Linked DNA regions of Homo sapiens: regions 2 and 3 are each linked to region 1. The links come from fine-mapping of genetic effects on gene expression. A gene starts in region 1. Each other region holds a variant in brackets. All regions are shown on one strand. Distances are between the middles of the regions.

Region 1 (8,182 bases):
AGGTTCCAAAATGGAGGGAAAAAACAAAACAGAGGAGGAGGGGAAGAGAATACCTCAGTGGACTTCCTGGATTCCCCATAAGCCCTAGTTCTAGCCTGTCTCTGTATACATCCAGTCTATAAGATTGTCCTTTTGAAAAAGCTAGTTCAAACTAAGTTTCTATTACTAATATAGAGTCTTTGGTCATGAAAAATGAAAACTAGTCTAAACTAAAGCAATTCTTTTTCTGTAAAGATGCCCACATCTACCAGGTGTGATAAGCCCCTTAACATCTAGATATTTCCTATTCACCCTTAAACCATCCACAGTACTTGCTATCTAACATACACCCAGTAATCATCTCTTAAACGTGATCTAAAGATATTCTCTGATGTAAAAATCATCATCATCAACTTTTTCAAAAGGACTTTTTTGGTCTGTAGAGCAATAACTATCTGTGTGACCCTTGAAGCTTTCCAAGTGGGCCCTTCTGGGGAGGGGACGAGGACTTACGAGTAGTGCAGAATTTCACAGGGGTTACTAGAACAGGAAGTGTTGAAACGTGGAGCTGAAACCACAACTCTCCAAGCAGAGGAGGGCATCAGCAGTCATGAGACAGACCCTTCTCAGCCCTGGGCTCCAGCTCTCCCAGCCTCCACCCTCGGCATCCGAATGGCCTCTCCTCCCATTGAGATGGTATTACTCCCTCAGCTCCAACCATCTCTTCTACTGGCTATCTCCAGACCAAAACCTCTCTTCCAGCTTCCAGCTCCACATTCTGAAATGTTTAACATGCTCTTCAGCTGATGCGATGACAAATTACCTTCCTCCCTAAAGCAGCTACTCCTCCTGACTCCCCAAGTGCCATAATGAACCCCACTTTACCAGTGATTGATTATTAAGCTTCAAAACCTTGCTAACTGCCATACAGTGGTATACTACACACTCACTGAAGTCATTATAATATATCTTGACTGGGAAAATAATTGCAATGTGCAGCCCAAAAAGCAAACCAAAATATATGTGATCAATGTGTTGTATATATGTATGTGTGTGTGTGTGAGAGTGCATGCATGTGCACAGACAGCAGACTGCAATGGTTAAATAGGGCTTTGGAGCCAAAGAGACCTGGTAGGGTCTGTGACCTTATGGGAGTTCAACTCTCAGCATCCAATTCTTTAATATAAAACAGACTTTGAGTATCTATCTCATGGAGAATTTATACCATTAAATAAGATACTATATAGAAAGCACTTACATTGCACCTAACAGAAGATATCCCAAAATACTAAAAGTGATTATTTCTAGGTGCTGGCACTGTAATTTTTAATTTTTTGCTTGGCTACATTTTCCATGAAAAAGCTTAAGTTATCTTTGATCCCCTTTTCATCATCTTCCTTGACTCAGTAATTCCTCCAGCTTCGGCTTCAGAAAAGTGTCTCCCACATGAGTCTTGTTTCACATTAGCAAGCCCCCTACCCTGCTGGGGACTCCATCACCTCTCCCATGAACACCTCTCATCTTCCTGTTGAGCCTCCAAAGTCCAGCTCTCCCTTCTGCACCCTGCTGTAGAATTCATTTCTTCAAAGTCCAACTGGGATAATACCATTCTCCTGCTGAATGCCCATCCTTGCTACTCAGGCTTCTCAGAGTCCACTCGGTCCACCTGCCCAGGCCCTTCTTGCTCACATTTCAAACTGGCGCACTCCCAGTTCCAGCTCCGCAGCTACCTTCCTGGTGCCTCTTTCCCTTGTCGAAATTCTGTCGCCTTCTGAGGTCTTCCACACCACCCTGCTCCCTGTCCCTATTAGAAGTTGCCCCTCTTTCTATGCTTGCTTTAAAAAAAAAAATTTCTTTAAGGCATTTATCACATTCTACCATGACATCTAGTTATGTCCCCTGCCACAGATTTGACGTCAGGCCTTCAATTTAAACAGATCAACACAAACTATTTTGCAGATATCTCAGGAATGAACTCCCAGTTCTTGTTTTGCAAGGCCTCCCCAGAGGGAGTCTCAGCTTGAGTTGTCCACTCAGACCCCATGGCCCCAAGTCAGTAAATCAATTAAAAAGCCGAAAGATTCTCTGGGCAACTTTAAAGGCCTTGTGACATTTCTTGAAAGGAACTTGTCAAAACCTGCAGCCATATCTTATCTTTATCTCAGCTAAATACCAGGCAGACCAAAGATGGCTGTTTATTTTTCTTGTGCTTCAAATAGGCTTACAGAGAGCTCTGGTCCAAGGCGTAATTATACGGATGTGGTTGTGCTTCAGTCACACCAGGAGGGACCTGGAAAAATACTTCTGGGAATGGCACGTTGACTCCCAAGCCACCATAGCAAGACTCCAGAGCATGTTTATAAACCACAGCTTCACAACAGGAGCGGCCCCGAGGTTTTTCTATCTCTTGCTCAAGTATGGAATTTAAATAATCAAAGATGATCTTCCTACTTCACCCCCGTGGTTCTGCTATGTCCAAGTTCAGACTGTAAACACACTACGTGTAGATTTATCTAATTAAAATGCAGTTCACCAGCTGTGTGATGCTTATGTCAATGAATGTTTTTTAATAAATTAAAAACGGTTGGCTTGGAATTTAAGTGGTTCTGTAAGAAGCTTAGAAAATCTTTTCAGTGAGAATTGGAAATCACTTCAATGCCAGCTACAGAGTAGGAAGACAATATCTCTTTGATTAAAAGTGTTAAGGCTGCTTTCTGAATTCAATTAAGTCTTAGTTTTCAGAACAGATAATGCTCCTGAAAAAAAAGTATGCATACCCTGAATTTTTCTAAACAATATCTTAAATGCACTAGATACATATTTAAAAGATTCCTATAACAATTTATTTTTTGGCAAATTTAGTTTTGGGAAAAGGCAGCTTTCCTAATGTTAGATTTCTTAACAATTTACCTATAGGGAAAGGAGACAACCTGGACGAGGTGAATGGAAAGGGAGGCTTTTAAAACGAGGGGATTGGGAGGAGGTGATGGGGGCCAGTAAGATGGTAGAAAAGAGGAAAAGTTTTTGATTTCTTCTTGCCTGGCCTACGCCTGGCCGAGAAAGCTGGGGAAAGACTCGCTGTTGCCTAAATCCCTGCCCTTGTCCTACTTTTAGCGTCACCCTAAATCATGTGTGTTCTGGTCCACAAACAGCTAATGTACTTCCCAAGCACAGAGAAACACTGAGCCCATGGTATGGAGCTTAGACACAAGGCGAAGAACTCACATGGACAGCACCCAGACCGGGAGGACAGCCACCTCCCACCTTTCTCAAGAGGGTTTGGGCAATCAGCTTCGCGGGGCTGAGGGACCCGGCCGCCTCCCTCGCCCGGGGTGCGCGTCTGCTTTCGCAGCCATCTGTGCGCCGGGGCCATCCCGCGGTAATCGGATCACGGACGCGCGGCCTGGGGCGCCGGAAAGGGGGCCGGGCTGTTCCAATCTGCTGTCTACACTGGCGGCGGACAAAAGTTGTCCTCTTCGTGGTAGGAAAACGCAATCGCGTTAATCCGTTGGGCCGCTGTGAAAGCCTTTCCCCCACCGGGAAGGTCTGTTTCACTCGGGGAGAGGTGACAAGGCCGCCCCCGCCCCCAGGCCAGGCACGAACCCCGCACAGCGCTTCCGGGCGCCCAGGTTTCCGAGCCAGCGGGGCCGGACTGAGGGCGCCGGGCATAAGAAAGCCGCCCTCTGCGCGCGGGGCTCTCCCGCGGGGGTTCCAATCGTGGGCACGGAGCACGCGAGAAAAATGGGGGTCGTTGGGAGGACGGCGCCGGCGCCTGGGGCGGAGGAGCCCGAAAGGGCGGGTGGGCGCGGGGACTTCCGGACAGAGCGCGGTCCCCGCGAACTTTCCCGGGACGGCGAGCCCGGCCGGGAAGAGCCCCAGCTCGCGGAGCCCCACTCACCATCTCTTTGCGGAGCAGCGCCAGAGCGGCGTCCAGGTTGGGAGGCTTGGCGGGCAGCGCTGCCGCCCGGGCCCCGCCGCCGCCCGGGCCCCCGCGGCTCAGCTCGTCCTGGATGCGCGACTTCTGCGCGTACAGCCGCTCCAGGTGCCGCCAGCCCCCAGACGCGCCGCCGCCCGACGCCGAGTGCAGCAGCCCGCTCAAGCTCTTTGGCAGCGGGGGCAGCCCGTCCACCCGCAGCCCCCGGACCGCGCCGTTGCCCGCGGCCCCGGGCGCCGCCCGGGCCCCACTCATCGCGCCGCGGCCCGGCCACGCGCCTGCCCCGCTGCAGCGAACCAAGGCTTTCCCCCGGCCCGCCCCCTTCCCGGCGGTGCCCCGCCCACTTCCCCTCCCGCGCCACGCCCCCCCGGCCCCGCCCCCTCTCCTCGAGGCCCCTGCGCGGGCCCCGGGTCCGGGTGGCGTCCGCGTCCAGCAGCCGGGCTCGCCTCCACCCGGGTCTCCTCCTCCCTCGCGCCCCTCCAGCGCCCTAATTCATCTCCAACTCCGCGTGACTACCCTCTAACCCCCCGACTCACCTCCAGCCCCGTCACGAACCCTTCTGTGCCACTCCCTAGCTCCGAACCTACTAAGCCCCCCGCGACCCGCAGCTTCCCGGTTCACCCCCATCTCTGTCCCCACCTCCTCTGAACCACCTCCCAGCTTCCCGGCTCACCCCTAGCTCCGAACCCTCTCACCCGCGCCACCCCGAACCCCAGCTTCCCGGCTCACCCGCATCTCTGTCCCCACCTCCTCTGTGCCAACCCCCAGCTTCCCGGCTCACCCCCAGTTCCGCCCCCACGCCCTCTGTGCCACCCTCAGCTCACTGGCTCACCCTCAGCTCCGAACCCACTCACCCCCCACCCCAGGCTTCCGGATCACCCCCATCTCTGCTCCCACCTCCTCTGTGCCACCCCCAGTTCACTGGCTCGCCCCCAGCCCCGTCTCCACTCCCTCTGTCCCACCCCTCAACGCCCGCTCACCTCCAACCCGGCTCCAGACTTCCCCCTTACCTGCCAGCGCTCCTCAGCTCCTTGCCTCACCGATCCCTGCCCTGCCCAGGGGGCGGCCCAGCTTCAGATCCCACGAAGCAGGCCGTTGCAGGGGGTGGGGGTACCGAGGCTCTGGCTCACAACCGGCAGGACGTCGAGGGCAGGAGGCCTGGCTCTGGTCCCAGGACCCCCGGCCCTCCCCGAGGGCGGAATCCAGCCCGCCTCCTGCTGCCTCCCACTCGCCGCGGGGGGCGGCTGGGGGCCCCAGACCCGGGCAGGTCGCTCCTTGCCGCCGGGCGCGCTGGCCTTCTCAGCACGGCCTTGTCCAGCAGTACCCGCAGCAGTCAGCAAGAACGCCAGACCCACTTTTGAAACTTCAAAACACTAGTAAACATGCCTTTCATTCTGGCCATAAACACAAGAGTAACTCTAAGTGGAAATGTCAGGAAACCAGAGAAAGGGATTAAATCTCGGAAATTATCCATCAGCTCAGGCAAAAATAAACACGACGCACACCTCAGAGGAAAAGAGAAGAGAGAGAGAGACTCTGCCCCTCCCAGGAAAAGTAAAAATGACAGGCAGTTATAACCAGATTAGAGATAGAAAAGATCAAGAAGTAAACGCTACAGCCCAACCGCAGATTAAAAACTAATGCAGTGTATAGATTGGATAACTTTAATGCCCATTCATTATTGGCTTTAATTATAAAGGGATTTAATTTTCTAGCTACATTCAAGGGGATCAAAATTATAAAGTGTTCTGAGCACTTCAGACACCCAACATAAAAGAGCCCTGCACTTTGGGTTGTTTTATACCCTTTACCACCTCCTAGAGCCCACCCCAGAAGCAGTGTCTTTGAAATTGGCACAATATTCTCCCTGGACGGTTGCAAGTGGGTGAGACTGATATGAAGAAGCTTTAGTGCAGGCGGTGTGATTGACAGCACCCAGGCTTCCCACCCCACCCACTGCCCAGAATTTTCCGCCTCTTCACTGTGCCTCACCTTCTACTAATTACCTAGTCACATTTCTGGATGTCAGGTATTTATTCATTCACTTATGTAAACGGTGGGTGTCTTCAGGAGAGTGACCAGTCTGCCTGTGTGGGAGTAAGGGAGAGGAAGGGGTGGGAAGCATTTTGACATTCGGTTCACACCTTAGCATGAATTTTTTTTTTTTTATGAGACAGTCTATCACTCAAGCTAGAGTGCAGTGGCGTGATCTCAGCTCACTGCAACCTCTGCCTCCTGGGTCAAGCAATTCTCCTGTCTCTGCCTCCCAAGTAGCTGGAATTACAGGCATGTGCCACGACGCCCGACTAATTTTTGTATTTTTAGTAGAAATGGGGTTTCACGATGTTGGCCAGGCTGGTCTCGAACTCCTGACCTCAGGTGATCCACCCACCTCGGCCTCCCAAAGTGCTGGGATTACAGGTGTGAGCCATCGCGCCCAGCCTGCATGAATTTCTTTAATTTCACTGGTTACAATGCAGTCTCACCTGTAGTACCTAGCAGAAATCACTCAAGGTAGGTGATAGGAGATTCAGCTATGTGATGGTGAAATAAGAAAAGAAATCACTTTGAAGTATCGGGGCACTGAAAGCATTTTAAAGCACATACTTCAGAGAATTACGGATTACAGAAGGAAAAGGAGGTTAGGGTCAGCTAGACAGCAGCATGAGGTCCGTGGTGTCAGGACTCGAGAAAAGAGGCACAACTTAGACAATGCCAACCTTACCAATTTTTTTTTTCTTTTTTGAGATGGAGTCTCACTCTGTCGCCCAAGCTGGAGTGCAGTGGCGCGATCTTGGCTCACTGCAACCTCCACCTCTCGGGTTCAAGCAATTCTCCGCCTCAGCCTCCCAAGTAGCTGGGATTACAGGCACCCGCCACCATACCCATCACCATCTTGGCCAGGCTGGTCTTGAACTCCTGACCTCACGATCTACCCACCTCAGCCTCCCAAAGTGCTGGGATTACAGGCATGAGCCACCACGCCAGGCCAACCTTAACATTTTAAAGGCAGGCTCTGCGTTCTGGCCTATACTCAGTGAGGTAAGAGTATTGAAATCAGTATCAACAAATAATATCCCAGGGTAAGGAGAAGTTTCTACAGAATTTCTGTGGTGCTGGTGAAGACATTATTTGTACAAGCCTGAAACTATTATATAACAAATATTTTGACATCCTTGGGGAATGTTAGTGTCTGTTTATTCAAATGCCAATATAAAGTACCTTTTAAAGTTCATGCTTATAATGAGAGAGAAGTAGTAAATAACTTCTGACAGTGTGTTTTTTTGCATTAAGCCACTGAAACATTACCTTAGTCCATTTAGGCTGCTATAACAAAATACCTGAGACTGGATAATGTGTAAAGAACAGAAATGTATTGCTCACAGTTTTGGAGGCTGGAAGTCCAAGATCAAGGCACCAGCTGACGTGTGTGCTGAGAGCTCATTCCTCATAGATTTCACCTTCTGGGTGTCCTCACATTGCAGAAGGGGCCAGGGAGCGCCCTCAAGCCTCTTTTACAAGGGCACTGATTCCATTTACAAGGGCTTCACCTTCATGACCTAGACACCTCCCAAAGATCTCACTTCAATACCACCACATGGGGGTTAGGTTTCAACATATGAATTTGGGGCTGGCAGGGGGCACATACATTCAGACCATAGCAAAACATCTGTATTCTGAGTTCAAATCAGAGTGAGTCTTCATCATCACCCATGCAGCTGAATTAGTCTTTTCTGTTTTGTTTTGTTGTTCACAGGCTCTTGGAAATCAGAAAACACAAACTTCTAATCCAGTGCTCTATTCATTAACCCACATCTTTTCTTAGACTTTGTCAATCAAGGTTAGGGACCTGGGCCTTGGAGCACAAGCCTCAGAGTCACCAGTATCCAGGCATTTACTTAGAGATTATTCTCATGTGCCTCCATCCTGACCTTCCATTAACCCAGCCACTAGGTTCCTCCCCACCTCTAATCTCTGCCCACTTGTTGTTTGCTTTTGGGAACTCTAAAGAGTCTTTTTGTGCGTTTTATTTATTTTTGTTTTTTTTTATCATTCTCAAGTTTAATAACTTAGGTTGTTAATAGACTAGAAAGAACCTGAAAAAGACACCAGAAGTCCAACTGAGCTTGCCTTTTCAAGCTGATGACTTTAAATGCCGCTAACTATAGAGAAGTTTATCTTGCCATTTTTCATTTGTTGCAGAACCTAAAACTAGATTACTTTGAAAGCAACTGTGCAATGAATTTGGGCTACATTTTAGCAAATGTG
Region 2 (8,182 bases), 25 kb after region 1:
TCCCTGTTTTAAAAGAAATTTTCTTCTTAAACAAACACAAGGGAAGAAACACGTGACAAGCAGCTTTACATTGGGCCTGAGATTTATGTGTAAAGAGGGCTATGGGATGGATCCCCCGATACTTGGACAACAGGGGTGGTCTCTGCTCCGGCTCCAGGTCCCCTTCCCTCACTCCATTCTCTCCTATCATCCTCACCATTCCTAAGTGTGGTTTCTGCTGAGGACAAGAGGCCTTCTCATTTCCAAAGCATCTCAAAATCATGGACTACGCCAATTGCGTATCTACTCTTCCTGCATATATTAACCCTCTTATGGCGATTTAACCAGTAAGCGCTGAGGAGCACTGCACAGTTCTGCTGTCTGGGTAGATTTTGCTGCTGCCAAGAGATCAACTTCTAGAGATAAAGTACATTTGTTATAGGATATTTCCTGTTTCAGCCTTAAGATGTAGCCCATAAGACTAGGTGTGGTGGCTCACGCCTGTAATTCCAGCACTTATAGAGGCTAAGATCAGGTGGATCACTTGAGCCCAGGAGTTCAAGACCAGCCTGGCAACATGACAAAACCCCATCTCTATAAAAATACAAAAAGTTAGCTGGGCCTTGTGGCGCATGCCTGTAGTCCCAGACACTCAGGAAGCTAAGGCAGGAGAATTGCTTGAGCCTGGGAGGTGGAGGCTGCAGTGAGCCGTGTTTGTGCCACTGCATTCCAGCCTGGGTGACAGGGTGAGACCCTGTCTCAAAAAAAAAAAAAAGAGAGAGAGAGAGAAAGACCTGAGCTAGTGTGCTTAGCCCACTCACCATGGGATGCCCTGCACCACCTCCAGACAATGCAGAGAGTCCCCACCAGCAAAAAGACCCTCCTCAGATGCAACCCTTTGACCTGGGACTGCTCAGCCTCCAAAACTGTAAGAAATATATTTCTTTTCTTTATAAATTACCCAGTTTCAGGAATTCTGTTATAGGCAACAGAAAATGGACTACTAACTCTGATACTGCCCTGCACTCGTTAAGTTTTTCAGTACCCCAGTGCAGAACTGCTGAGGCCAGAGTCTAGGAGAGCCGCAATGAGGAAAGAGAGGCTGGCATGTATTCAAGAGGTCCTAGGGAAGTAGAATCACAGGAACTGGAAAATTGAATGGGAGGGAGGAGAGGAAAGGGAGAATAAATAACTGCAAGATTTCTGGACTGGGCAGCTAGATGCATGGTGGGGTGATGTGATCAAATAGGGACTACGTAGGCAGAGAAGGAGGAAATTTTGGAGTGAGACAATGGTTTCCATTTGGGTCATGTTGAGTTCAAGTTACCTGTGAGAAAATTAAGTAGAAAAGTATTATATTCTGGAATCTCTAGGGTCTAAGCTCAGAAGAGAGATAGCAGCTAGAGAATTACATGTGGGAGACATGAGCTTGGCTCGGGGAGGTGAAACCAGGTGGAGTGAGAAGAGAAGGCTAATAATGATATGCCAGGGAACACTGGCTCAGCCGTGGAGGCAGAACTATTTTGGGTTACTGATTTCCTAGACCATGGACTAAGGAATTGATCCTCTACTAGCATGTGCAAGGCTGAATCAGATGTCTCTTCTTCAATAAGGTTAGGAATTTCTTACTTCATAAAATAGGTAAAACATGAAATTCATATACCATAATGAATAATCATAATGCTACCTTATATGACTCTAACTCACAGCCTTTGTGTCTAAGGTCTTCTAAACCTAAATAGAACAGTCTCATTAAGGACAAAGCAAAAAAATAAACATCCCTGACATGGAAGAATGTGCTGCTCAAAGACAAACACTTGATTGAGACGCACAAGCGGCAACTTCTGAGCCTCAGAAACCCATTAAATGGTCTTATTCATGCATTTCTATGCACAGAAGTCTTAAGTGCTTAGGGGATCTTTTATTTTTTACTCCTCACTTCCATGCATTCATTTCTGAAGCCCTATGACATCATTAGATAAGCATCAGATGAGAAAATGCATCCCATGGTTTACCACAGGCAGAATATTCCATATATAATACTTAAGATAGCATTTTCCCACTGAACAGACCAAAGAATCCTCAACAGGCATATGCAGAAGCGGTCAAACAAGGGTTTTTCCCAGCACTCTTGGATGTTCTTTGAAAGGGCTAAAGTCAAAAGAATAGTAAAAATTTTTCCCAAATGTTATAGACTGAGCAATATCCCCCAAAACCTCATATGTTAAAATTCTAATCCCTTGTGCTTTAGCACGTGACCTTATTTGGAGTTAGGGTCTTTAAAGAGGTAATTAAGATAAAATGAGATCACTAGGGTGGGGTCTAATCCAATATGACTGATGTCCTTTAAGAGGAGGAAATTTGAACCTGGCCGGGCACGGTGGCTCACGCCTATAATCCCAGCACTCCAGGAGGCCGAGGCGGGTGAATCACAAGGTCAGGAGTTTGAGACCAGCCTGACCAACATTGTGAAACACCGTCTCTACTAAAAATACAAAAATTAGCCTGGTGTGGTGGCAGGCAACTATAATCCCTGCTACTCGGCAGGTTGAGGCAGGAGGTTGCAGTGAGCCGAGATCGTGCCACTGCACTCCAGCCTGGGTGATAGAGTGAGACTCTATCTCAAAAAAAAAAAAAAAAAGGAAATTTGGACAGTTACAGAGAAATGACGGATGCAGGGAGAAGACAGCCATCAGCAAGTCAAAGAGAGAACCCTCAAAAGGAATCATGTCTGCCGACACATTGATCTGGGACTTGCCAGGCTCCAGAACGGTGAGACAATAAATTTCTGTTGTTAAAGCTACCCCGTCAGTGCTACTTTGTTATGGCAGCCCGAGCAAACCAATACATCAAATAAGCAATATTTCATGTCTCTATATGACTATAAAGCAACAAATGGCTGGATATGGGTAGAGAATTCTAGCCTGCAATGTTTTCATGATGTGGGCCATAAAAGTGGATGCCGCCTTACAAATGGTTGCCTTAAATCCTTGGTGATTACAATCAATGCAATTCTTCAGTCCAGGAAAAAGACAAAGCTGCTTTCAAGGGAAGGGAGGAAACAGTAATCTGAAACTCCATCTGTACAATGACCAAAAATAAAAGCAAATGTGTTTGCAGTAGGCCTTGCCTTCTGCCCAAATTTTCTTTGGTTAAAACTGGGTAACTTGGCACCTCAGTATTAGCAGCCATTTATAAGTAATTGCTGGTAACGGGGAAAGTCAGACATCCAAGGCAGATGAGATGGGGAGAGGGGAGGCAGGATGTGGGGTAAATGTCCAAGATACTCACTTTGAGCTGGTCCACAGGCCCTTGTGTGAAAAAAATGCAGCTTCTCTAATCAGTGTTTTCTGAAAGTGAACTCTTTATCTTCTCTCATGGTGAGATTAAGTTTCTTTCGGAAGAAAGCAGAAGGAAATTTAATTTGCTTGCTCTCCTCTTTTTGATTTGTTTCCTACAGAAAAACCTAGTGAGTTGATTTTGAAAAAGACTTACACAATTATGGTTCCCTGGATTCTAACATATTTTCTCCTGCATATGGTTTCTAACTTTGGATTGCTTTCTTCTTTCTTTCTTTCTTTCTTTTTGACAGAGTCTCACTCTGTCACCCAGGCTGGAGTGCAGTAGTGCAATCTCGGCTCACTGCAACCTCCGCCTCTCGGATTCAAGCGATTCTCCTGCCTCAGCCTCCTGAGTAGCTGGGACTACAGGTGCGTGCCACCACACCCAGCTGATTTTTGTATTTATAGTAGAGACAGGGTTTCTCCATGTTGGCCATGGTGATCTCGAACTCCTGACCTCAGGTGAGCCACCTGCCTTGGCCTCCCAAAGTGCTGCAATTACAGGTGTGAGCACCGTGCCCAACCTTCTTTTTTTTTCTTCTTTTTCCTCTCCATCTGTCCCTCCTTCCCTCCCTCCCTCCTTTCCTTTCTTCCTCCCTTCTCCTTCCCTCCTTCCTTCTTTCCCTTCCTCCCTTCCTTCCCTCCTTTTCTTTGGGAGCAGAGGCTATCTTTAACATCCCTACACAGAGATATAAGATCCACTCTCCTGCTCAGCATCTTGCTACATTGTCTGTTAACCTCAATCTTGCCCATAAATTCTATCCAGTGCTGCAGTACCTTAAAGTAGAGTTGGGCTGTGACGTGGAGGAATCCTTGGCCCACCCAAAGTCACAAAAATCATTCATCCACAGATAGTAAAGTAGCATGAGGTGGAGAGGTGGCTGCCAAGAATATTTATCGAGCACCCCTCTGACCATCCTCTCTACGTGACCTCTTACCAGCTAATGTGATGGAGCAGTGTTCTGTTCTAATCGGTGCTAACACCCTTAACTGATTTCTAAGGCCAAATTGTTCTCCTATTTGGGGCCCAGGTCATGTCAGCCTTTTTCAGTCACCCCTGAACCACTCTCAAGGATTATTGGGGAATTTCTCTTCCTCTGATAATCTGTCCTATCACCCAGCAAAGGCGAGTTGTGGAGAAAAAGCCCCCAGGGGCCAGGCGCGGTGGCTCACGCCTGTAATCCCAGCACTTTGGGAAGCTGAGGCAGGCAGATCACAAGGTCAGGAGATTGAGACCATCCTGGCCAACATGGTGAAACCCCGTCTCTACTAAAAATACAAAAATTAGCCAGGCATAGTGGTGGGCACCTGTAGTCCCAGCTACTTGGGAGGCCGAGGCAGAAGAATCACTCAAACCCGGGAGGCGGAGGTTGCAGTGAGCTGAGATTGCGCTACTGCACTCCAGCCTGGGTGACAGAGCAAGACTCTGTCTAAAAAAAAAAAAAAAAGAAAAGAAAAAGCCCCAGGGATTGCCCGCCCCTAGCTCCCTGAAGAATAG[G/C]CGTGCAAAGGTGAAACAGAAGAAAATCCTACAACTATGGTGAGCGGACCCAAGAGGAAAGGGTGTGGGTCAACTGTTGTGCCTAAGAACAAAGAAAACAGCTGGGGTCTGAGGGGCAGTTGGTTGTTATCAGTTCTTCTAGAGGAACTGTTTTTTCCGGGAGGTGCTGGGATGGGCGTGGACGTGGAGGGACCAGCTTGAAAAGCAACTCCTTACAATCATACCCATCTTGGTTTGAACTCTCCTCCAACCACTGGCTGACAGTGAGACTGCAGACATCTCATCCCAAAGTGAAAGCCACACTATCGTATAGGGGTAAACGTAACTCTTCACACCCACCATCCTGTTACCAGGGTAGCTCTGATGAAATAACTGGGAAAGTTCCGTTTCCCTACTGTTTTTCTTTAGTGCCTTTATCTATAGACACAATTGCTTAAAGAAACCAGATGGCCTAGGATGCTGCCAGCACTTCTTGACCCTTAACCAAACACCAGAGGAAGATAAGATCCAGGAGAAACCGGTGCAAATTACAACAGGCAACCCCTCTTGTCTTTAGTTGATTAACATAGCGTTATAATGCTAAAACCCCCTCCCCTAAGAGAAGATCACCACTATTTGGTGTACATGCAATGTATGAAGAAGCATGTTTAGGAAGCATGCCCATGTGTCTGGAGTCTCACCCTGCACATGTTAACATACCTCTCCCACTCCACACCCAGTCCTTAAAAACCCTGCCTCCTGTTGCTCAGGGAAAGGATGCCTTTGGAATGAGAGCTTCCCTTCTCCTTTCTCTGGCCGATAAATAAAACCCAATTGCCTTTTCCAATTAGATGTCCTTTCTTTGCAACTGATGGGAAATTGGGAAAGAACTCAGTTTGCTGATGACAACCCCACCCTCCACACACATCAATGCATCTGAACCTAAGTAGGTGCTGTGAGTACTGAGAATGCTGGTGAAGACTGGAGAGCCTGACTGTGGATCAAAGGCCACAGCCACTCTCGGGGAACAAGGCCCAGGGAGACCCCTACACCTTCCCTATCACTATAGATACCAGAGCTTTGCAAGTCCACCTGACACATACAGCTGACACAAGCAACTGTTTGTCCACTCAAAACATACACCCCTAGGGCTAGAGAGCAGCAGCAGGAGGGCTTTCAAGGGAGAATACCAGAATGTCTAGTAGGTACTTGCTCAGGTAAATTTGGAGGGGCCTAAGGTCAAATATGATTCCTCCATCTGGCACAGAAGCTGGGACTCTTGATGGCAGCAGCATCCTAATCACAGAGGTTACACCAAGAGAGAGAACATAGTCTTTGCATGTGTCTCATGTCAACCGAAGAATAACTAGGTTCCTATGTTTGGAAAGGAGAGCTTCGTTTCTCATAAAGGGTTGCAGACTGCAAGGTGGCCATTCTGACAGGCTGGGAAGCGTAGCCTCCAGTCAGAAGCCAGAAACAAACACTTCAAGGGAAGGGCAAAGGGAACAGGAATCTAAGCTGGGCAGGGTGGCCTAACATACATATTTAATAAGCTAAAGGAGGAGACGTGAATATTCATAAAAAGAGCAGTGTACACTACACAGTTGAGCTCCATGCCCCTTTATGGGTCCCATGCATAAAAAGGCAACATTAGCATGATCCGAAGGGGCAGCTTTCAGTCCTCTGACATCAAAAGGTGAAGCAGAGGGCATGAAAACCTGTACTGTGCATTCTCCGAAAACTGGCCAGAGCCAATCCATGGTAGGTGATCTCTTATCAGGCAAAAGAGGAGAAGCAGTGTCCAGCAGCTGGTTGATCTCAGTGGTAGAGTCTTTTGAAAGGGCTGGTTTCTGTTCAGCCCTCAGGGAAAAAAGCTTCATTGCAGTTATTGAGGGAGAGGGTATAGCAATGTGTGTCTGATCTGCTATCCCATCACAGCTGAGAACTCAGTTTTCAAGGTTACTCTGGGCTTCCCATGGCCAAGCAAAGGTCCATTCAGTTAGGTGGGGGGCTTAGAATTTTTTTTTTTTTTTTTTTTGAGACAGGGTCTTGTTCTGTCACTCAGACTGGGGTGCAGTGGCATGATCGCAGCTCACTGCAAACTCTATCTTCTGGGTTCAAGAGATTCTCCTGCCTCAGCCCCCTGAGTAGCTGGAACTATAGGTGCATGCTACCATGCCCAGCTAATTTTTGTAATTTTTGTAGAGACAGGGTTTTTCCATGTTGTCCAGGCTGGTCTCAAACTCCTGAGCTCAGGTGATCCGCACATCTCCACCTCCCAAAGTGCTAGGATTACAGGTGTGAGCCACTGCTCGGGGCCAAGGCTTAGAATTTTATTTTTAGTTGACACTTTCATCTGACTTACTGTTGAACTAAACCAGAGGAGGTTCAGGGCTTGCAAGCTGACTGTTGCGGTCTTTCATCACTGGGGTGGGCTGGTAGGGGCAGGACAAAATTTGAAGGCCCCAGAAAGACCTCTGCTTTGCAAACCCTGATGTTATAGCCCTCATTTGTATCCTTCTGTGTGCTCTCTGTGGATTAGGGTCTAGACAGGAGGTAGCACACTGATTAGTTGGGAGCCCCAAATCCCCATGATGGAGGTGTCGTTTCCTACTGCAGTCATTTTTTGTGTTGTTGTTGTTGCTTGTTTGTTTGTTTTGAGATGGAGTCTCACTCTGTCACCTAGGCTGGAGTGCAGTGGCGCAATCTCAGCTCACTGCAACCTCCACTGCCTGGGTTCATGCGATTCTCCTGCCTCAGCCTCCCAAGTAGCTGGGATTACAGGCGTGTGCCACCATGCTCGGCTATTTTTTTTTTTTTTTTTTTTTTTTGTATTTTTAGTAGAGACGGGGTTTCACCGTGTTAGCCAGGATGGTCTCAATCTCCTGACCTCATGATCCGCCCACCTTGGCCTCCCAAAGTGCTGTGATTACAACTGTGAGCCACTGCGCCTGGCCTGCAGTCCTTTTTACACTGTGTTCACAGAAGCCCCCGATGCTCTCAGGAGCCCCTCCAGGGCACCCAGGCAGAGGAAGTGAGGATGTGGCATAGCAGAGCTCTGCACTGACGCCCTCCGTCTGCTTCAACAGAGCAGACACAATTTCTTCTACTTTCTGCATTTATTGGGTTTCTGGGTAGGATTTTATTTCAATAAAAGCTTATTAGTTAAGGTTCTTTGGCTGAAAGCTATAGAAACCAACTCAGGCAAATAAGCAAAGAGGATTTATTGGAAGTGTGTAGGGCTGGGGTGTTTTCCAAAACCAACAACCAATTTTCTGATTTTTCTGGACACTAGTTGGGTGTTCTACAATTCAATTTCATTTTCACACAAACTACCCAGAGTTAGCACAGACCTCACGGCTTAGGGGCTCAGTGCCGCAAGACA
Region 3 (8,182 bases), 51 kb before region 1:
AGCTGCCTCCTCTGTTTGATTTCATATCACCCTGTGCTTATCCCATTGTAGCCGTTGGATGTTACATAGTCTGATGACTGTGGTCATGAGACCATATCATAGAGGCATGTTTGTCTTCTGCTTCTAAACTGTTAGATCCTTGAGGATAGAAACTGTGGCTGAAGGTGAATATCTAGCACCTTGGAAGTTCCTGGTCCATAAAATGGCCAAGAAAAGAGAACGATTGTTATACATGTAATAGCCACTCCAAAGACATTTGTCAAACAAATGAATGCAAAAGGAATAACAGCTGCTGTGTCTCCTGGTGCTGGTTTCTGCCTACCTCCTTCCAAGTATTGTCCAGATCCCCAGCCTTAGACTTGTGATGCTGTCCAAAAACGGGTTTTAGAGAATATTTAAAGGACAGAGAGAGGACCCCTGACTTTTTAGGGTTTCCATTTTAACATGAAGCAGCCTCTCTGGTGTCCCAGTCTTGCATGTAGAAAGGAAGGAGATGTGTTCCATGTGAGTAGCCAAGGGAGACCTATCAAACAGCTGTTTGTCATGGACATGGAATTTCTGATTCTGGGGCTTCTGTTTAGATTCTGGCTTACTCCCTGCTCAGGTAAAGAACTGCAAAAATATTAACTCCTTATGCGTCAGTTTGATTAAGCAGAATTTTTTTTTTTTTGAGACGGAATCTTGCTGTGTTGCCCAGGCTGGAGTGCAGTGGCGTGAACTCAGCTCACTGTAAGCTCCGCCTCCTGGGTTCACGCCCCATTCTCCTGCCTCATCCTGTAGTTGCTGGGACTACAGGCACCTGCCACCACGCCCTCCTAATCTTTTTGTATTTTTTTTTTAGTAGAGATGGGGTTTCACCATGTTAGCCAGGATGGTCTCGATTTCCTGACCTCGTGATCCACCTGCCTCGGACTCCCAAAAGTGCTGGGATTACAGGCATGAGCCACCATGCCTGGCCCTGATTAAGCACATTTAAGTTTGAGGTAACAGCACGTCTCCCTTCATTGGATCACTCGGTAACTGGAAAACATACCTATTCTTGTAATGACACAAATGAAGTGGAGAAGCTATTTAAATTGGGAACACATCCAATGTTTTATTACATTTGAATTGCAGGGTCGGTATTCTTCAGTGCCCTTCATTTTTCTTCCAGCACTTTAATGTAATTAAAAGGCCAGCCTAGAAGGTTTTTACACTCGCAACTCTTCTATTTTATCTTCTCAGAGTTTCCAAATGTTATGCGTTTGAATTGTAGCCATTCCAGTAGTCCCCGTTCTCTTTGGGGTATATGTTCCAGGACCCACAGTGAGTGCCTGAAACCACAGATAGTATGGAACCCAATTACCATCCATCGGAACACGTTTCTGTTCGTGCCTTCCACCCACAAATGTAATACTTTTCCTATTTTTTTTTTTTTTTTTTTTTTTTTTTTTTTTTTTTTTGAGAGAGAGAGACCGAGACAGGGTCTTGCTTTGTTGCCCAGGATGGGCTCGAACTTCTGGCTTCAAGCGATCCTCTCACCTCGGACTCCCAAAGTGCTGGTATCACAGATGTGAACCATGGCACCTGGCCCTGCCTTTTCCATCTTAGCACTTCTCACATACTGTGGCCTTAATTTTTGCAGTTTGAAATGCCACAGCAAAACTAGCACAATTTCTTTTCTTTACAGTTGCACAGGTAGAAGATTCATTCTTACTGTAGATCTTAACCTCAGCATAAGATTGGTTTTTTCCTTATTAGTTGAGAACTTTCACCTTTTCACTTAAAGGATTTTACAGCTTCTCTTTGGCTGTAAAATTGCCAGCATCACTACTCTCATGCTTTGGGGCTATTATTAAGTCAAAGAAGGGTGACTTGAACCACAAGCACTGCAGTACTGCAATCCTCAATCCTGTTAACCTGGACAGCGACTAGATGACTAACAGGCGGGGAGCATCTGCAACGTGGACACGCTAGACAAAGGGATGATTCACATCCCGGACAGTGGAGCAGGACAGCATGCAATTTAAAACTTATGCTTATTTCTGGATTTTTCCATTTCATATTTTCAGAATGCTGTTGACCTCGGGTTACAAACTGCAGAAAGCAAAACTGTGGCTACGGGAGGACTGCTGTAGTTTTATAAAGTGAATGGTAGCATTGATGCATTTTTGTGAATAGTACTGCTTTAGAGGTCACATTTCTAATGAGCTTGTTTGTGTATACCTGCGTTTTTTATGTTCTAGTGATGTTGGAATTTGGTAACATTGTAATCACATGTGTCTAGAGAATCTGAACTCAAAATTGGTGACCCTTCAGGGGGGAATAAAGCCATTTAATGTGAACTGCTAAGAGCCAAGGGAGCCTTGATTCTGGAACCTAGAGCTAGGCTGCACAGCCTAGTTCCTTGCACAGCCCAGCACTCTCCAGACTGTACAGACAGTAGAGTCTGTCTCTACTCTAGCAGAGAAAGACCATTTTCTTTCCATATCCTTGATGTTACTGGAGAAAAACCCAGGCTTCCCCTGTTACCGGCCACCTCAGGATCATTCGGATCATGCCCCATTCTTTACCTACTTGCAGCTCTCAGTAGTTCTGGGGACAAGGTAACTGCTGAGTACTTTTCTCCAAATCATGTGCCAAGAACCATAAAGTCAGGGGCATCTAGCCAAGAGGCAACAATTTATCAATGAAAGTGCATTATAAATATATTTATTTTGTAATAATTGCTACAAATTGAAAGTGGAATTGGACATAGAGTCTCTGTAGATTGAAAGTAAAATCTTCTGGAATACTTTCCTGCCTAAACTCAGTCTTTAAATTAGATATATTTTTAGCTTCTTGAATATGACGTTAAAATATTAATATTCCTAGCCTAGAAGATTATATTTAGTCCTTTCTGAAACCCTTTCTTATATAGATGAACATTTTGTATCTGAATGGAAGTTTATATAAATAATTGCTAATATGGCCATATTGCTATCTGTGTCCAAAATAGACTCTGCTGTTTTGAAATCCTTGAGGATTTCAGAAAGTATACATTTGCTTGTTCTAATATTATCTTGTATTATTTCAGAAATCCTGCCAGAAACCTGTAGACAAATATATCGAGTATGATCCTGTTATCATCTTGATTAATGCTATATTGTGCAAAGCTCAGGCCTACAGACATATTCTTTTCAATACTCAAATAAATGTAAGTTGTGATAATTTCATTTTTTAATTTTATTTGATGCTGTTACATTTTAAAAGAATAATAAGAATTTTAAACAGAAGTAAAGAATATTATAAAAGAGGAAAAGAAATTCTAATGTGAGAGTGGGTCTTTTATTGCAACATATCTGGAAGTTTCTAGAAATAATAGATGTTGATTTTGAAAGGTGCACAATGCTTAGTGAGTGTTTAAGAATATGGTCACTGGCAGGAAACTGACAAGCCATGATCTGAATTACCTGCTAGTAAATTGAAACAATCATCACTGGTTTTTAACAGAATACAATTAGACATATCCAGGTAGGGAGAGAATTATACCTAAATGAGTTAAGCAAACATTAAAAGAAAAATGTTTTTTTAAAACATAATTTATTGCATTTTATACTTTGCTATTAAAGGAATGTATAAGGTAAATAACATTCAGTTTAATCAAAGTCCTGATTTATAAAGTTGAATTTTTCAAAATAAACTTTTAGTTTATTGAATTGTGAGCTCTTTAATAGTTTGGGTAGAGTTGACAGATAACATACAGGACAGTCAATTAAATTTGAATTTCATATATACCATGAATTAATTTTTTAGTATAAGAATGTCCCAAATATTGCATGGAACATACTTATACAATAAAAATGGATTCATGGTGTGTGTGAAACTCA[A/G]ATTTAACTGGCGGTCCTGTTATTTTATTTATTTATTTATTTTTGAGACGGAGTCTTGCTCTGTCACCCAGGCTGAAGTGCAGTGGCGTGATCTCGGCTCACTGCAGCCTCTACCTCCTGGGTTCAAGTGTTCTACTGCCTCAGCCTCCCAAGTAGCTGGGATTACAGGCACGCATCACCAAGCCCAGCTAATTTTTGTATTTCTAGTAGAGATGAGGTTCGCCATGTTGACCAGGCTAGTCTGGAATTCCTGACCTCAAGTGATCCTCCCACCTCAGCCTCCCAAAGTATTGGGATTACAGGCATGAGCTACTGTGCCCAGCTCTTCCTCACTTTATATTGATGGAGAAAGTTCAACCTGAAGGAGGAATACATAGAAAAAAGCCAATTTTTGTTGCCTAGTATTTTTTATTTTAGCCAAAATTTCAGACTTTTAAGAATTAGGTTTTAATTGTTCTCTTTTAACATATTGAGTCATACTCATCCAGCTGGAGATATTTTTAAAAAACTGATGTTCAGACTAATAGTTTCTTATTCAATATCATGGAATCTTCAGATTAAGTCTATTCTCTTATTGCTGTTCCCACATATACATGAATCACATAAGTTTTTTGCTTGATTCTGTATAAAGGACAGAAATCAAAAATGTATAATGAAAGGTGAACTATTATTTAAAGCAGTGATTCTTAACTAGGGGTGCACATTAGAATCCCCCCAGAACTGTTTCAAAGTATGATGTCTATGTTGTACTATGAAGATTCTCAATCAGGACCTGGGCTCAGACATTTAAATTTTGAAAAAAATCTCCCCATGTGCTTCTGATGGACATTGCTGATTAAAACTCACTGATTACAAAATGACTACAATTAGCCACTTAATTGGGCAGTCCTGAATTTGAAAAGTGACTAGGTGGGATGCCACAAATACTCTGTACCTGTTGATACTAGTGCAACTGGGTTTCCTTACCTAATTGAATGGCAATGTCTTTGACTATCAGATCCATGGAAAACTCTGCATATTTTGTTTGCTTTGTGAAGCATACCTGAGGTGGTGGCAGCTTCAAGATTCCAACCAGAATACTGCCCCTGATGACTTGATCAGATATGCTAAGGAATGGGATTTCTATAGAATGTTTGCGATTGCTGCTTTAGGTAAGGAGATGCCATGCTTTCCATTCTTAGTTAACTATTCTTACTTAACTAATCTGGTTAAAACTAAGACATGTAGTCTTAATTGTTGGTAAGAAGAGCTAGTTAATATGGGACTTAAGATGAAATTTTCAGCTCTACCACTACTAACCTACGAGGTGAGTGTGTTTGAATCACCTGCTTTTTAAAAATTTGTTACCACGTATATGGTATGGAAGTAGTTATGCTTATCGGATTAGAAAGTTTCATAAAATATTTCGAAGCACAATATTGTTGATAAAATTCTTTTATTTTTATTATTATATATTTTTTAAGACAGGGTCTCACTCTGTTGCCTAGGCTGGAGTGCAGTGGCACAGTCACAGCTCACTGCAGCCCTGAACTCCTGGGCTCAAGCAATCCTCCTGCCTCGGCCCCCCCAGGTAGCTGGAACCACAGGTATGCACCACCACACCATGCACCACCTCCAGCTAATTTTTGTATTTTTTTGTTGAGATGGGGGGTCTTTCCGTGTTGCCCAGGCTGGTCTTGAACTCCTGAACTCAAGCAGTCCTCCCACCTCAGCCTCCCAAAGTGCTGGGATTACAGGTGTGAGCCACTGTGCCTGGCCAATAAAATTCTTAATGTTTAAGTTTTGATTATCCAATCTGAAAGTTAGCTAAGTCCTATCTTTATTAATAGAGATAATTGCCAGACATTACCCAATGTATTGTACTAATTGCATTATACTAATGCAGTGTATTTAATAGGGTTTGGTATTTTTTGTTACTTGTTACTTATCTGAGTGCATGCAGGGAATTTGGCTACTCCTCAAAATTCCTTAAGTTCAGGAAGTGCTTTTCAGAATTTCACTTCATAAGTTATTGTTTTCCTAGTGTCAGAATTGTGTTGAGCTAATTTCTGTGACTATTTTATTGCTAGTTCCATGCTTCTCTGCTTCTCAACTCTTTGATTATAATGAAATCTTACTTTAGTAATACTAAGTCTCCAGTCCACTCCAATATCACATTTCTGGGCTGTGTGTCTTCTTTTGTCCTCTTTTTTTCTCTGTCTGCTCTCGCTCTCTTGGTCATGTAACCTGTCTGCTGAGAACTCTCAAATGTCCATCTAGACCTTTCTCCAGACCTCCAGACTCTGCATCCCTCTGCCTTCTCAACATCACCACTTGGATATCTAATAAATCACCATACCCATAATTGAGCTCCTCATCTCTCTGCCTCTACCACAGCCTTCTCCTTCTCAGTTGTAACTCCATTCTTTTAGTTGCATTCACCAGAAAACCTTGCAGTCATCCCTGATGCCTCTTTCTTTGATACCCCATAGTCAGGTCATCAGGAAATCCCATTGGCTCCACCTTCAAAGTACTTCTACTTTTTTTTTTTTTTTTTTGAGACGGAGTCTCACTCTGTCGCCCAGGCTGGAGTGCAGTGGCGCGGTCTTGACTCACTGCAACCTCTGCCTCCTGGGTTCAAGCAGTTCTCCTGCCTTAGCCTCCCGAGTAGCTGGGATTACAGGCACGTGCCACCATGCTTAGCTAATTTTTGTATTTTTAGTAGAGACGGCTTCACCATGTTGGTCAGGCTGGTCTCGAACTTCTGACCTCGTGATCCGTCCGCCTCTGCCTCCCAAAGTGCTGGGATTACAGGCATGAGCCACTGCGCCCAGCCACACTTCTACTATTATACTACTGCTACCCTCCATTCCCTCCACGGCTGCCACACTGTTGCAGGCCACTCTCATCCTTCACCTGCATGACTACAGTAGCCTCCTTGTTTGCTAGCCCAGTTCTCCAACTGTGTATTTGCACGCAACACAGAGTAGTCCTTTTCAACCAAATCAGATCATGTCACTGTTGTGCTAGAACACAGTAGCTCCCCGTTTCACTCAGAGTGCAAGCTGAAGTCTTTACAGTGGGCCTTGTACTGGAATCTGCCCCTCCCACTGCGTCTCTCATTTTATCCACAGCTGTCATCTCCCATGTCTACTCTGACCCTCCCCATCTAGTTAACTTGCTTCAGAAACACTGGATGAGCTTCCACCTTAAGGCCTTTGAAGTGGCTCTTCCTGTGCCCGGAATGCCTGTCCCCCTGATGCCCAGATGTCTGACTCCTGCATACCCCTCAAGAGTTGGCTAAAATGACACTTTCTAAATGAAGTGTACCTCTGACACTCCTGATCTCCTGTTCCGGCTCTACTTTGTTTTTCTTATGGTACTTACTATTTAACATATCACAGAAGTTATTATCTTTTGTTAGTGCCTTTCCCCACTAACATGTCAACTGAATGAGGTCAGGGCTCTTTGTGTTAGTCACGGTTGTAGCTCAAGCACTTAGGTGCCTGGCCCAGGTGCTTAATAAATATTTGCTCAGCTGATTGAATGAATGATTGCATACATTCATCCACGCACTCTTAACTTGAGCAAGTCACCATCAGTTACACTCGGTGATTATTCATTCACTATTCATTATTATTCATTCCCTTAAGAAATATTTTTAAATACTTATTAGGTGCCAGTTACTACTTTAGGTACTTTAGGTACTAGAGATATATCCATGGAAAATACATAGAAAAATCTCCGCCTCCATTATTATGTAATTACTAAGGCTTATGACAGCTTAACCGCCATGATGTCCAGTCTATCGATAATTTTGTATACAATTTGGACTTTGCAACAATTTAAAATATTTGAAATATACAAAAGAATATGTTAACCTTTTTATCTTATGAAACATAATACTACTGAAAACATCCTTGAGCACATCATCTAGCCCAAGAACTAGAACCTAATATGATTTTAAACCTTAAAGCAAAGCCTCTTAAAAATTTTTTTTAATTTTTATTTTTTTAAGAGTGAAGGTCTTGCTCTGTCACCGAGGCTAGGGTGCAGTGGCACAGTCATAGCTCACTGCAGCCTGGAGCTCCTGGGCTCAAGGGATCCCCCTGCCTCCGTCTCCTGAGTAGCTGGAACTACAGGTACATGCTACTGTGCCTGGCTAATTTAAAAAAAAAAATTTATGTAAAGGCAGTATCTTACTCTGTTGTCCAGGTTGGTCTTGAACTCCTGGGCTCAAACAGTCCTCCCATATGGGCCTCCCAAAGTGCTGAGACTGCAGGCATCAGCCACTGTTCCTGGCCCTTCTTAAAATTTCTAAAGATAAACTGTTATATGTCCATATTTTGTATATA

The links. PIP is the estimated chance that this variant, and not a neighbour inherited with it, causes the effect. A credible set is the group of variants that fine-mapping cannot tell apart.
Region 2: its variant is the best candidate, but not a certain one, in a credible set for the expression of FAM89A in skeletal muscle (GTEx, PIP 0.57).
Region 3: its variant is the best candidate, but not a certain one, in a credible set for the expression of FAM89A in whole blood (TOPMed, PIP 0.71).

The regions. Positions count from the first base shown.
Region 1 is chr1:231,036,044-231,044,225 of GRCh38, forward strand. FAM89A (family with sequence similarity 89 member A) reads right to left here and starts at 4,211. Exons shown (of 2, transcript NM_198552.3): 1 at 3,878-4,211. The coding sequence starts at 4,168. RefSeq lists an enhancer at 2,889-3,570 and silencers at 3,233-3,312, 3,953-4,002, 4,263-4,372.
Region 2 is chr1:231,060,733-231,068,914 of GRCh38, forward strand. No RefSeq gene overlaps it. Among named protein-coding and RNA genes, the nearest start is that of FAM89A, 25 kb to the left of the region's middle. RefSeq lists a silencer at 2,871-3,165 and a cis regulatory region at 4,863-5,333. The variant G/C (reference allele first, on the strand shown) is at 4,819.
Region 3 is chr1:230,985,265-230,993,446 of GRCh38, forward strand. It overlaps ARV1 (ARV1 fatty acid homeostasis modulator), which reads left to right. Exons shown (of 6, transcript NM_022786.3): 2 at 3,056-3,175; 3 at 4,846-4,999. Among named protein-coding and RNA genes, the nearest start is that of ARV1, 10 kb to the left of the region's middle. The variant A/G (reference allele first, on the strand shown) is at 3,849.